2 separate regions of the Homo sapiens genome follow, and region 2 is linked to region 1. Evidence: fine-mapped expression QTL. A gene starts in region 1. The other region holds a variant in brackets. All regions are shown on one strand. Distances are between the middles of the regions. Region 1 holds the start of NME5 (NME/NM23 family member 5). Region 2 holds the start of LOC124901208 (small nucleolar RNA U13).

Region 1 (5,381 bases):
GTGAGGTGGGTTACTCTCTGCTTCTGCTTCTAAGATGATGCCTTGTTGTTGTATTCTGCAGAGGGGACGAATGCTGTATCCTCACATGGCAGAAGGGACAGAAGGATAAGAGGGCACTCTCTTCGATATGGAGCCCTTTTATAAGGATGCTAATCCCATTCATGAAGGCAGAGCACTCATGAATTAATTACCTCCCAAAGGCTCCACCTCTTAATACTGTTGCACTTGGGATTAAGTTTCAACATGAATTTTGGAGGGGATACCATCATTCAAACAGCAGAGACAATGATACCATCATTCAAACAGCAGAGACAAACTTCTTTAGGAATGAGGAAACTAAAGCTCAGAGGTGCTTGGTCATGACTTGCTCGTGATCAACCAACAGTTAATAGCAGAGCTAGAACTAAGCCCCAGATTCTTACCTGCAGTTCAGTCTTCTTTCTACACTGCTGTGCCTTCTCTTATATATCTACTTTCTGTGTCTCATTAATATTGTCTTAATATTCACTTGATCCTTTTTTCATCTCCATGAAAGGAGAAAAAAATTATTCTTAGCTTTTTATTTGTGCAGTAAGAGAAGTAGATGAAATAATATATGACTATACATTGTAAACAGCAAATAACTACTGTGTGATAAACTGATGATTGGTGCTCTTTACAACTTTGATACCTGGGGCCAGCACTCCTCCTCTGATAGTAGAATATAGTGGCTTGACCTGTGGGCTCTGGAGTCAGGCTGCCTCTGAATTGGAATTCAGGCTGTGTGCCTTTCAGTGAGTACTTAACCTCTTTAGATTTCAATTTCTTCATCTGTGAAATGGAGATAATAAGGCCGGGGGCGGTGGCTCACACTTGTAATCCCAGTACTTTGGGAGGCCAAGGAAGGTGGATCCCCTGAGGCTAGGAGTTCGAGACTAGCCTGACCAACATGGTGAAACCCTATCTCTACTAAAAATACAAAAATTAGCTGGGCATGATGGCGCACGCCTGTAATCCCAGCTATTCTGGAGGCTGAGACAGGGGAATTGCTTGAACCTGGAAGGTGGAAGTTGCAGTGAGCTGAGATTGCTCCATTGCACTCCGGCCTGGGCAACAAGAGTGAAACTCCGACTCAAAAAAAAAAAAAATGAGATATTAATGATACCTACCTTACAGGTTTATTGAGAGGATTAAGTGAGTTAGTATAGAAATACAGTGTTTGGCCCATTGTAAACAGGCAAATATTAACTGCTGTTGCTATTTTATTATCTGATGAGGGTTGTTATCTTTGCTACTGTTTTCATTAAGAACTGGTTAGTTCTTCAAGAGAACGTGTTAGGTTATCATATGTTCCACATGAAGGTTTGATTTTCTTTGTTTTTTCTTGGCCACCTGCAGACCCATGGACTTAACTAGCCTGAAGAGAAATCTCTCTAAGGGTCGGATTCGCACCATGGCCCAATTCCTGCGAGACCTGATGCTGATGTTCCAAAATGCTGTAATGTACAATGACTCTGATCATCATGTATACCATATGGCTGTGGAGATGCGGCAAGAAGTCCTGGAGCAGATTCAGGTACTGTATGCAGATACCTGTAGCCTCTGGAATCTTGATTTCAGAACGCCTATGAGAATAAAGGTGATTTCGAGGTGACTGTGTTCTCAGAGTTTATTTTTAAAGGTGATTAAGGCCCTGAAGGATTGATAATGTGCCTGCTGGTTTGGAAAACCCTGAGCCTCAGTAAGTCCAGCTCTGATAGTGAAGTAGTCTAGGAATGCAGGCAGCAGTGAAGAGCTCTCAAGAGAGCTGAGGATAGACAAGTAATGGGAATTCCCGCTTCCAGAGCCTCAAGTCAAGGGCTAAACTCCAAAGAGGCTGGAGTCACTGTGTATTTTTTGGTTGCTTCATCTGTTGTTATTAATGTACGTTCACACTTTCCCATCTTTAGGGGATAAGATATAGTAGCTAGAAGACATTTGTGGGTTTCTTTTCTGGGTAGCATCATACTTTAAAGAAAAAAGTATAGTTGAGTCTATTTGCCAAAAAAATAAACTTGCAATACTTTAGTGTTTAAGGTTCATAATAGCTTGCTATGTGTTCCTTAACCCTTTAGGTACTGAATATCTGGTTAGACAAAAGAAAAGGCTCAAGTAGTCTGGAAGGAGAACCAGCTAACCCAGTGGATGATGGAAAACCTGTTTTCTAACCTGGAGCTGCTATCCTGACTTTTTCTAGAGTTTGAATCTCTCCCGGAACTCTGACCTAGAGAGGATCCTGGTACTTCTTTGCCATGTCCTCATTTTCTTTTCCAACAAGAATAATACCTTAACTCACAACCAACGAGTCAAAGATGCATGTGGACATAATATAAAGAAAAAAAGGGGAAGCTGAGGTTTGGATTTATGCCATAAATGTTGCCCACATCTTTGTTCCATCGGCTTGATTTAAAGACAATTCCATTAGATCTTTTCTAAGCCTTTTACTCTATAAATAAATGTATTTACACAATAGGAATATTGCTTTTTAATGACTAGATAAGCTGGGCATAGAGGGCACAGCATCATCTGGTGAAACGAAGGTATCTGACACGGGTCATTTACATATACCGCCTGGAAAGGAATGGTTGGGGGAGGGGTTCTTATCATTTATAGAGTAGGGATAATTGAAGCATCCTTCAAACGGGAAGAAGGATGAAATAAGATAAATTATGAGTAAAATGTCAGAAAACATCTAGTGCTCTAAGATTCACAAGGAGAATAAAAGTGACTGGCTGGCTCCCTTTGGTTAAAACGAACTGGCCAGAAGCTGCAAGGTTCCTTGCTGGGATTGGCTCTCTGCAGCCACCGTCCCCACGCTGGGGCTTCAGGTCTCCTAGCAACAAGTTGTACCATATGAGGACGGCCGCTGAGGTGAGTACTTAGAGAGGGTCAAATTCAGAATTTGCAGGTGCAACCCGGAAAGTCCCCGCGGACCTAGAGGCCCTGCTTTTCAATTAGCCTGACCCTATGCACAGAGAGGTCCCTGCGGGACAGGGTCGCTTCACAGAGGCAGCTGGCCGAGGCCGCTCACCCGCCGCTGTAATGGTGTGTGGTTGCCCACCAGCCACCGTCCCCTCGAGCCCCCACCACCCGCTCTACCGCCCCCTCGAGCCCCCACCACCCGCCCCACCGCCCTCTGCTGCCTGGGGCTGTTGCTGGTTCCAGGCCTTCGGGTCGCCCCTTGGCCTCTGGTTATGTGAGCCCATAGTCCTTCCTGCCTTGGTGACATCGTATACGAAAAGCCGGGGCTCGATTTGGACATAGTAGGAATCCTATTATTGAGACCCTGTATATAGAAAAACATGGCAGTTTCTACCTTCATCAGTTAATAAAATCAAGTACCTACTATTGCTATTCTTAATCATAATTACATTGAATTTGCGATGGGGGTGGGGGGAAATGCATGTCATTGCAGTTGATACCTGTTAAGAAACTCTTAATTTGTGCCCTGAAAAGCCATAATGGAGATATCAATGCCTCCACCTCAGATATATGTAGAAAAAACTCTGGCCATTATCAAACCAGATATTGTTGACAAAGAGGAGGAGATACAAGATATTATTCTTAGATCCGGATTCACCATTGTTCAGGTAACTTCTGGGTATGATGATTCATGCTTTTTTCCTCTCTGCCCTTAAAAAAAAAATGCTTATGTAAATGTGCCTACCCATTTAAACCCTTAGTGTTCAGCATTAAATTTAAGTTTATTCTTCTAAGTATAAAAGTTATATGTGATAGTTTTTAAAAGGATGTAAAATGAGAAATAAAATGGACTTTTCCTTCACCTGTCCTCTTTTACCCCAAGTCCCAGGCTCCAGAGAGAGGCAACCACTTAACACTTTCTGTTCTTCCAGGAGTTTTCTATGCATTTATAAACATTTTCCCCCCATAAAACAGAACAGTCCCTTTCCCTTGACCCCTTTACAGAGTCCCTCAGATAGGATTCCAGATCATTGCATCTGAATTGATCTCACTCTTCCTAATTTCTGTGTAATATTTCCCTGTGTATTAGAACTACAATTTATTTACTTGATCTTCTATTGATGGAATTTTAGGCTATTGGTACTTTTTTCAGTTATGGCATAACATTTAATGTTTTAAGCCTTATGTTCTGCAATTAGTAAACATTGTCATTCTAGGGGTTTGAAAGTGAATATAAATAGCATTGTTAAGGATAAATCAAATAGAATTGAATATTTTTAATCTTCCTCTTTTATAGTTTTTTTTTCTTTTTTTTGAGACAGAGTCTCCCTCTGTAGCCCAGACTGGAGTGCAGTGGTACGATCTCGGCTCACTGCAACCTCTGCCTTCCAGGTCCCGGTTCAAGCAATTCTCCTGCCTCAGCCTCCTGAGTAGCTGGGATTACAGGCATGCACCACCATGTCCAGCTAATGTTTGTATTTTTAGTAGAGACGGGGTTTTACCATGTTGGCCAGGGTGGTCTTGAACTCCTGACCTCGTGATCCACCCGCCTCGGCCTCCCAAAGTGCTGGGATTACAGGTGTGAGCCACTGCACCCCGCCTCTTTTACAGTATTCTCATTCGAACTTCCAATTTTTTATTTTCTCCCATTTATACAGTGTCATATTGCTTATTCAGTCAGTATTTTTAAAAATAAAGAGAAAATGGCGGGTACGGTGGCTCACGCCTGTAATCCCAGCACTTTGGGAGGCCGAGATGGGTGGATCATAAGGTCAGGAGTTTGAGACCAGCCTGGCCAATGTGGTGAAACCCCATCTCTATGAAAAATACAAAAATTAGCTGGGCGTGGTGGCGTGCACCTGTAGTCCCAGCTACTTGGGAAGCTGAGGCAGGAGAATCGCTTGAACTCAGGAGGCAGAGGTTGCAGTAAGCCAAGACTACGCCATTGTACTCCAGCCTGGGCAATAGAGGGAGATCTGTCTCAAAAAATAAATAAATAAATAAAGAGAAAATATCAATCTTCAGAAAAGATACGGAATTTCAGTTGAGCTTCAAAGGACAGGTGGAGTCCGAGAGTAGGGATGGCACAAGAAAGTGTTAGGAAGTATTTAATATGATTAAAGACTCAGGTAAATAACTTTTTAGTAAATGTTAGGAAAACTGGTAGCCACTGAAAAATTTGGATCAAGTATTATATACCAGGATAAACTCCAAATAAACCTGAGATCTACATATTAAAAAAATTAAACCATGTAAGTTCAGGAAGAAAAGATAATGGATTTATTTTGTTGTTGGAGTAGGACAGCCTTTTTTTTTTTTGTTATGACTTAAGGTCTAGGAGCCATGGAAGAAAAGATTGATAAGATTATATCAACAAGGCCAGGCACGGTGGCTCATGCCTGTAATCCCAAAACTTTGGGAGGCCAAGGTGAGTTGATCAC
Region 2 (5,381 bases), 23 kb after region 1:
CGTTAGGAGTTCAAGACCAGCCTGGCCAACATGGTGAAACCCCATCTCTACTAAAAATACAGAAATTAGGGCCGAGCATGGTGGCTCATGCCCGCAATCCTAGCACTTTGGGAGGCCGAGACAGGAGGATTACCTTAGATCAGGAGTTTGAGACCAGCCTGGCCGACATGGTGAAACCCTGCCTCTACTCAACGTACAAAAATTAGCCAGGCATGGTGGCACACTCCTGTCTACTTAGGAGGCTGAGGCAGGAGAATCACTTGAACTCAGGAGTTGGAGGTTGCAGTGAGCTGAGATTGTGCCACTGCATTCCAGCCTGGGCAACAAAGCGAGACTCTGTCTCAAAAAATAAAAATAAATAAAAATACAAAAATTAGCAGGGTGTGGTGATGCGGACCTGTAGTCCCAGCTACTCGGAAGGCTGAGGTGGGAGAATCACATGAACCCAGGAGGAGGTTGCAGTGATCTGAGATTGCATCATTGCACTCCAGCCCAGGCAACAGAGTAAGACTCCATCTCAAAAAAACATATAAAAAAATAGAGAAAAGTTCTTTAAAAAGAACCTTTTTAATGATTGTATAGTATTTAATCATTATGTTTGCATCAATGAGAATACATTTGTATTTGCAGTGATTGTTGAGCCCATTCCAATTGGACAAGCTGCTAAGGACTATTTAAATTTACATATAATGCCAACTCTGCTTGAAGGACTCACAGAGCTTTGTAAGCAAAAACCAGCAGATCCTTTGGTAAGAAATATTTTTATTCACACTTAAGAATATTGTCACCAGGCGTGGTGGCTCATGCCTGTAATCCCAGCACTTTGGGAGGCCAAGGCGGGCGGATCCGAGGTCAGGAGTTTGAGACCAGCCTGACTAACATGGTGAAACCCCGTCTGTACTAAAAATACAAAAATTAGCTGGGCGTGGTGGCATGTGCCTGTAATCCCAGCTACTCAGGAGGCTGAGGCAGGAGAATCACTTGAACCCAGAGGCAGAGGTTGCAGTGAGCCGAGATTGTGCCACTGCACTCCAGCCTGGGTGACAGAGCAAGACTCCATCTCAAAAAAAAAATTTTTTTTTCTATAAATTGTCTGTAGTTTTCACGTTTAAGACATTGTGTCTTTGAAATACTGCGAATATAGCTGGGCGCAGTGGCTCACGCCTATTATCCCAGCACTTTGGGAGGCCGAGGTGGGTGGATCACTAGGTCAGGAGATCAAGACCATCCTGGCTAACACGGTGAAACCCCATCTCTACTAAAAATATAAAAAATTAGCCGGGCGTGGTGGTGGGTGCCTGTAGTCCCAGCTACTTGGGAGGCTGAGGCAGGAGAATGGCGTGAACCCAGGAGGCGGAGCTTGCAGTGAGCCGAGATTGTGCCACTGCACTCCAGCCTGGGCAACAGAGCGAGACTCCATCTCAAAAAATAAATAAGTAAATAAATGAAATACTGCAAATATTGAGAACCTTTTTAAAATAAACATTTCTAGAAGGTATTTCATATACATGTTAGATATGTATAATTATTGATTACTTATTATTTTCTTGCTGTGTTTTATTTATTTATTATTATTATTTTTTGAGACGGAGTCTCACTCTGTTGCCCAGGCTGGAATGCAGAGGCGCAATCTGGGCTCACTGCAACCTCCGCCCCCCAGGTTCAAGTGATTCTCCTGCCTCAGCCTCCTGAGTAGCTGGGATTTACAGGCGAACACCACCACGCCCGGGTAATTTTTGTATTTTTAGTAGAGACAGGGTTTCTTCATGTTGGCCAGGCTGGTCTCGAACTCCTGACCTCAGGTGATCCACCTGCCTTGGCCTCCCAAAGTGCTGGGATTGCAGGTGTGAGCCACCGCGCCCGACCTATCTTTCTTTTTTTTTGTAGCCATGCTAGTAGATAACACAAAATGGTTTCTCACGGTGGTTTTGATCTGCATTTCCCTAATGGCTAATGTTGAACATCTTTTCATGAGCTTCTTGGCCATTTGTATACCTTCTTTGAAGAAATGTCTATTCAAATTGAAGTCCTTTGCCCATTTTTAAACTGGGTTGTCTTTTTGTTGAGTTAAAGTTCTTTGTATTTCTAGATGTTAAACCCTTATTAGATATATGATTTGCAAATATTGTCTTCCATTTTGTAGGTTGTCTTTTCACTTTCTTGATAATGTCCTTTAATGTATAAACATTTTTCATTTGATGAAATCCAATTTATTTATTTTTTCTTTTATTTCTTGTGCTTTTGATGTCATGTCTAAGAATCCATTGTGAAATCCAAATCCAAGGTCATGAAAATTTACCCCTGTGTTTTATGTTTTCTTTTAAGATTTTTTTTCTTTCCTTTTTTTTTTTTTTTTTTTTTTGAGACAGGGTCTTTGTTCCCCATGCTGGAGTCTGGTGGCGCCATCTCGGCTCACTTCAACCTCTGCCTCCTGAGTTCAAGTGATTCTTGTGCACCAGGCTGCCAAGTAGCTGGGACCACAGGAGCACACTACCACACCCAGCTAATTTTTAAAATTTTTTGTAGAGATGGGGTCTCCCTATGTTGCCCAGGCTGGTCTTGAACTCCTGGTCTCAAGTGATCTTCCTACCTCGGCCTCCAAAAGTATTGGGATCACAGGTGTGAGTCACTGGCCTCTTTTAAGATGTTTATTGTTTAAGCTCTTATATTTAGGTCATTGGTCCATTGTGAGTTCATTTTTGTATATGGTGTGGTATAGGGGTCCAACTTTATTCATTTGCATGTGGAAATCCAATTGTCCTAGTACCATCTGTTGAAGAGACTGTTCTTTCTCCAAGTCCAGTGGTACCAATGGGCTTGGTACCATTGTCAAAAATTTGTTGACCATAGATGCGTGGGTTTATTCCTGGATTCTCATTCTTTTTTTAAAATATGAAATGCTTAATAAATTGTGCATCATCCTTGCACAGGAGCCATGCTAATAATCTCTCTGTATCATTCCAGTTTTGGTATATGTGCTGCCGAAGAGAGCACTGGACTCTCAGGTCCATTCTATTGGTCTGCATGTCTGGCATAAGGATGTCATTACCACACTGTGCTGACTACTGTAGCTTTGTAGAAGGTTTTGAAATTGAGAGTACAAATCAGTCCTCCAACTTTGTTCTTTTTCATGATTGTTTTGGCTCCTCAGAGCCCCTTGCAATTTCATATGAATTTGAGGATTG[G/C]CTTTCCATTTCTGCAAAAAAACTTGTTGGACATTTGGCAAGAGCTGCACTGAATCTGTAGATTGCTTTGGGAAGTATTGACATCTTAACAATATCAAATCTCCGTATCCATGAAAAATAATGTCTTCTCATTTATTTAGGTATTCTTTAATTTCTTTCAGCAATGTTCTACAGTTCTTAATGTATAAGCCTTTCGCTTCTTGGGTTAAATTTATCCCTTGGCATTTTATTTGTCTTTATGCTACTGTAAATGAAAGTGATTTAAAATTTTTTTTTGGACTGTCATTGCTGATGTATAGAAATACAGTTGATTTTTGTGTATTGTAACCTACATCTTCGCTGAATTTATTAGCTGTAGTGGCTTCCTTGTAAATTCCTTAGGGTTTTCCACATGTAGGTTTATGCCATCTGTGAAAAGAGATAGTTTTACTTCTTTCTTGCCAGTTTGGATCTATTCTTGACAATCTTGCATAATGTAAATCCAAATGTTTCCATTTTTAATGGTCATTTTCTTAAAGTGATTTTGAAAACTGTTTAAGTTTCCAATTGATATAGTATATATTGAAAGGAAATATGTAACTGTTTCTTAACTTAGGTTGTTTTTTTTTTTCCCATAGATTTGGCTAGCTGATTGGCTGCTGAAAAATAATCCTAACAAACCCAAACTTTGTCACCATCCAATTGTAGAAGAACCTTATTAAAAAAAAAATCCTCGAAAGAACAAATCATGAACTATCTTATTATAAAAGGCTGTACTTCTACTGTTTGAAAAAATTATTTCTAGGGTTTAAGTAACTACAAGTAAAATAAATTTATTTCTTAAAAATAAGTGTTAAAGGAATAACTATTCTATGAAGCAGATAACATTAAGGTAAAATATAGGCTTAGAGTATGATTTTAACAATGATGTAACACTAGGTAATGGAAAACTCATGTAAGATGTTGCTAGATGTTTTTGTTTTTCTTAAGTTTGAGAAGTAAGACATAAAGTTTAGTTATACATTTTCCCAAGCACATATCCTATATCTAAATACATAATTAATGCACAGTTGAGACAGTCTAGTTTAAAAGGCTTAGGTCCTTTTGTAGTCCATAAGCATGGTGATTTGGTTTCATGCTCATGTGTCAGATATGCTTCCCTCAAACCTTGTTACAGCATCATCACATTACCTGTTTGATGTAAAAAATAAAAAATAGAAAGGTGTAAGTATATAAGTAATTTTTTGGTACAATGAAAATGGCCAGAACCAGGGGATGATCTTAAACTAATCACTTGGATAACTATTAGGCTGGTGCAAAAGCAATTATGGTTTTTGTCATTAAAAAACAATGGCAAAAACCACAATCACGGCCGGTCTTGGTGGCTCACGCCTCTAATCCCAGCACTTTGGGAGGCCGAGGCGGGTGGATCACGAGGTCAGGAGATCGAGACCATCCTGGCTAACACGGTGAAACCCCGTCTCTACTAAATATACAAACAATTAGCCGGGCGTAGTGGCGGCGCCTGTATTCCCAGCTACTCGGGAGGCTGAGGCAGGAGAATGGCGTGAACCCAGGGGGCGGAGCTTGCAGTGAGCCGAGATCGCACCACTGCCCTCCAGCCTGGGTGACAGAGCGAGACTCTGTCTCAAAAAAAAAAAAAAAAAAAAAGAGAAAAGAAAGTATAATGTAAGAAAATGTGAAAACAGAAAGATTGTTAGCTGAAAAAAAGTATGTTACAAAGCAATATGCACAGTGTACGCCCATTTGGTTTTGGTTTGGTTTTGGTTTTTTTTGTTTGTTTTAATAAGATAGGGTCCCGCTATGTTGCCCAGGCTGGTCTCAAACTCCTGGGCTCAAGCAATCCTCCTGCTTCGCCCTCCCAAAGTGTTAGGTTTATAGGCATGAGCCATTGTGCCCAGCCATGTGTTCTCATTTAGATTAAAAAATGAATAAATAAATGTGTATAGAATAACATGTAGAAGGATACCCACTCAAGTGTTTTTATCTATAATCTCTGGATGGTAGAAATATTTTATTTTTCTTCTTTTGCTTAGCTGTATTTTAAATTTTTCTACAGCATTTATGTAACTACTTTTGTGATTAAAAGAAACATTAAGATTACGAAAAATAAGCCGGGCGCGGTGGCTCAAGCCTGTAATCCCAGCACTTTGGAAGGCCAAGGCGGGCGGATCACGAGGTCAGGAGATCGAGACC

What was found. PIP is the estimated chance that this variant, and not a neighbour inherited with it, causes the effect. A credible set is the group of variants that fine-mapping cannot tell apart.
Region 2: its variant is the best candidate, but not a certain one, in a credible set for the expression of NME5 in lung (TOPMed, PIP 0.88).

The regions. Positions count from the first base shown.
Region 1 is chr5:138,136,879-138,142,259 of GRCh38, reverse strand. NME5 (NME/NM23 family member 5) reads left to right here and starts at 2,832. Exons shown (of 6, transcript NM_003551.3): 1 at 2,832-2,889; 2 at 3,475-3,608. The coding sequence starts at 3,480. It overlaps BRD8 (bromodomain containing 8), which reads left to right. Exons shown (of 27, transcript NM_139199.2): 26 at 1,378-1,555; 27 at 2,094-2,490. The coding sequence ends at 2,186.
Region 2 is chr5:138,114,186-138,119,566 of GRCh38, reverse strand. NME5 (NME/NM23 family member 5) reads left to right here. Exons shown (of 6, transcript NM_003551.3): 5 at 631-749; 6 at 3,803-4,392. The coding sequence ends at 3,886. LOC124901208 (small nucleolar RNA U13) reads left to right here and starts at 4,263; the gene lies at 4,263-4,365. It also overlaps the pseudogene RNU6-460P. The variant G/C (reference allele first, on the strand shown) is at 3,186.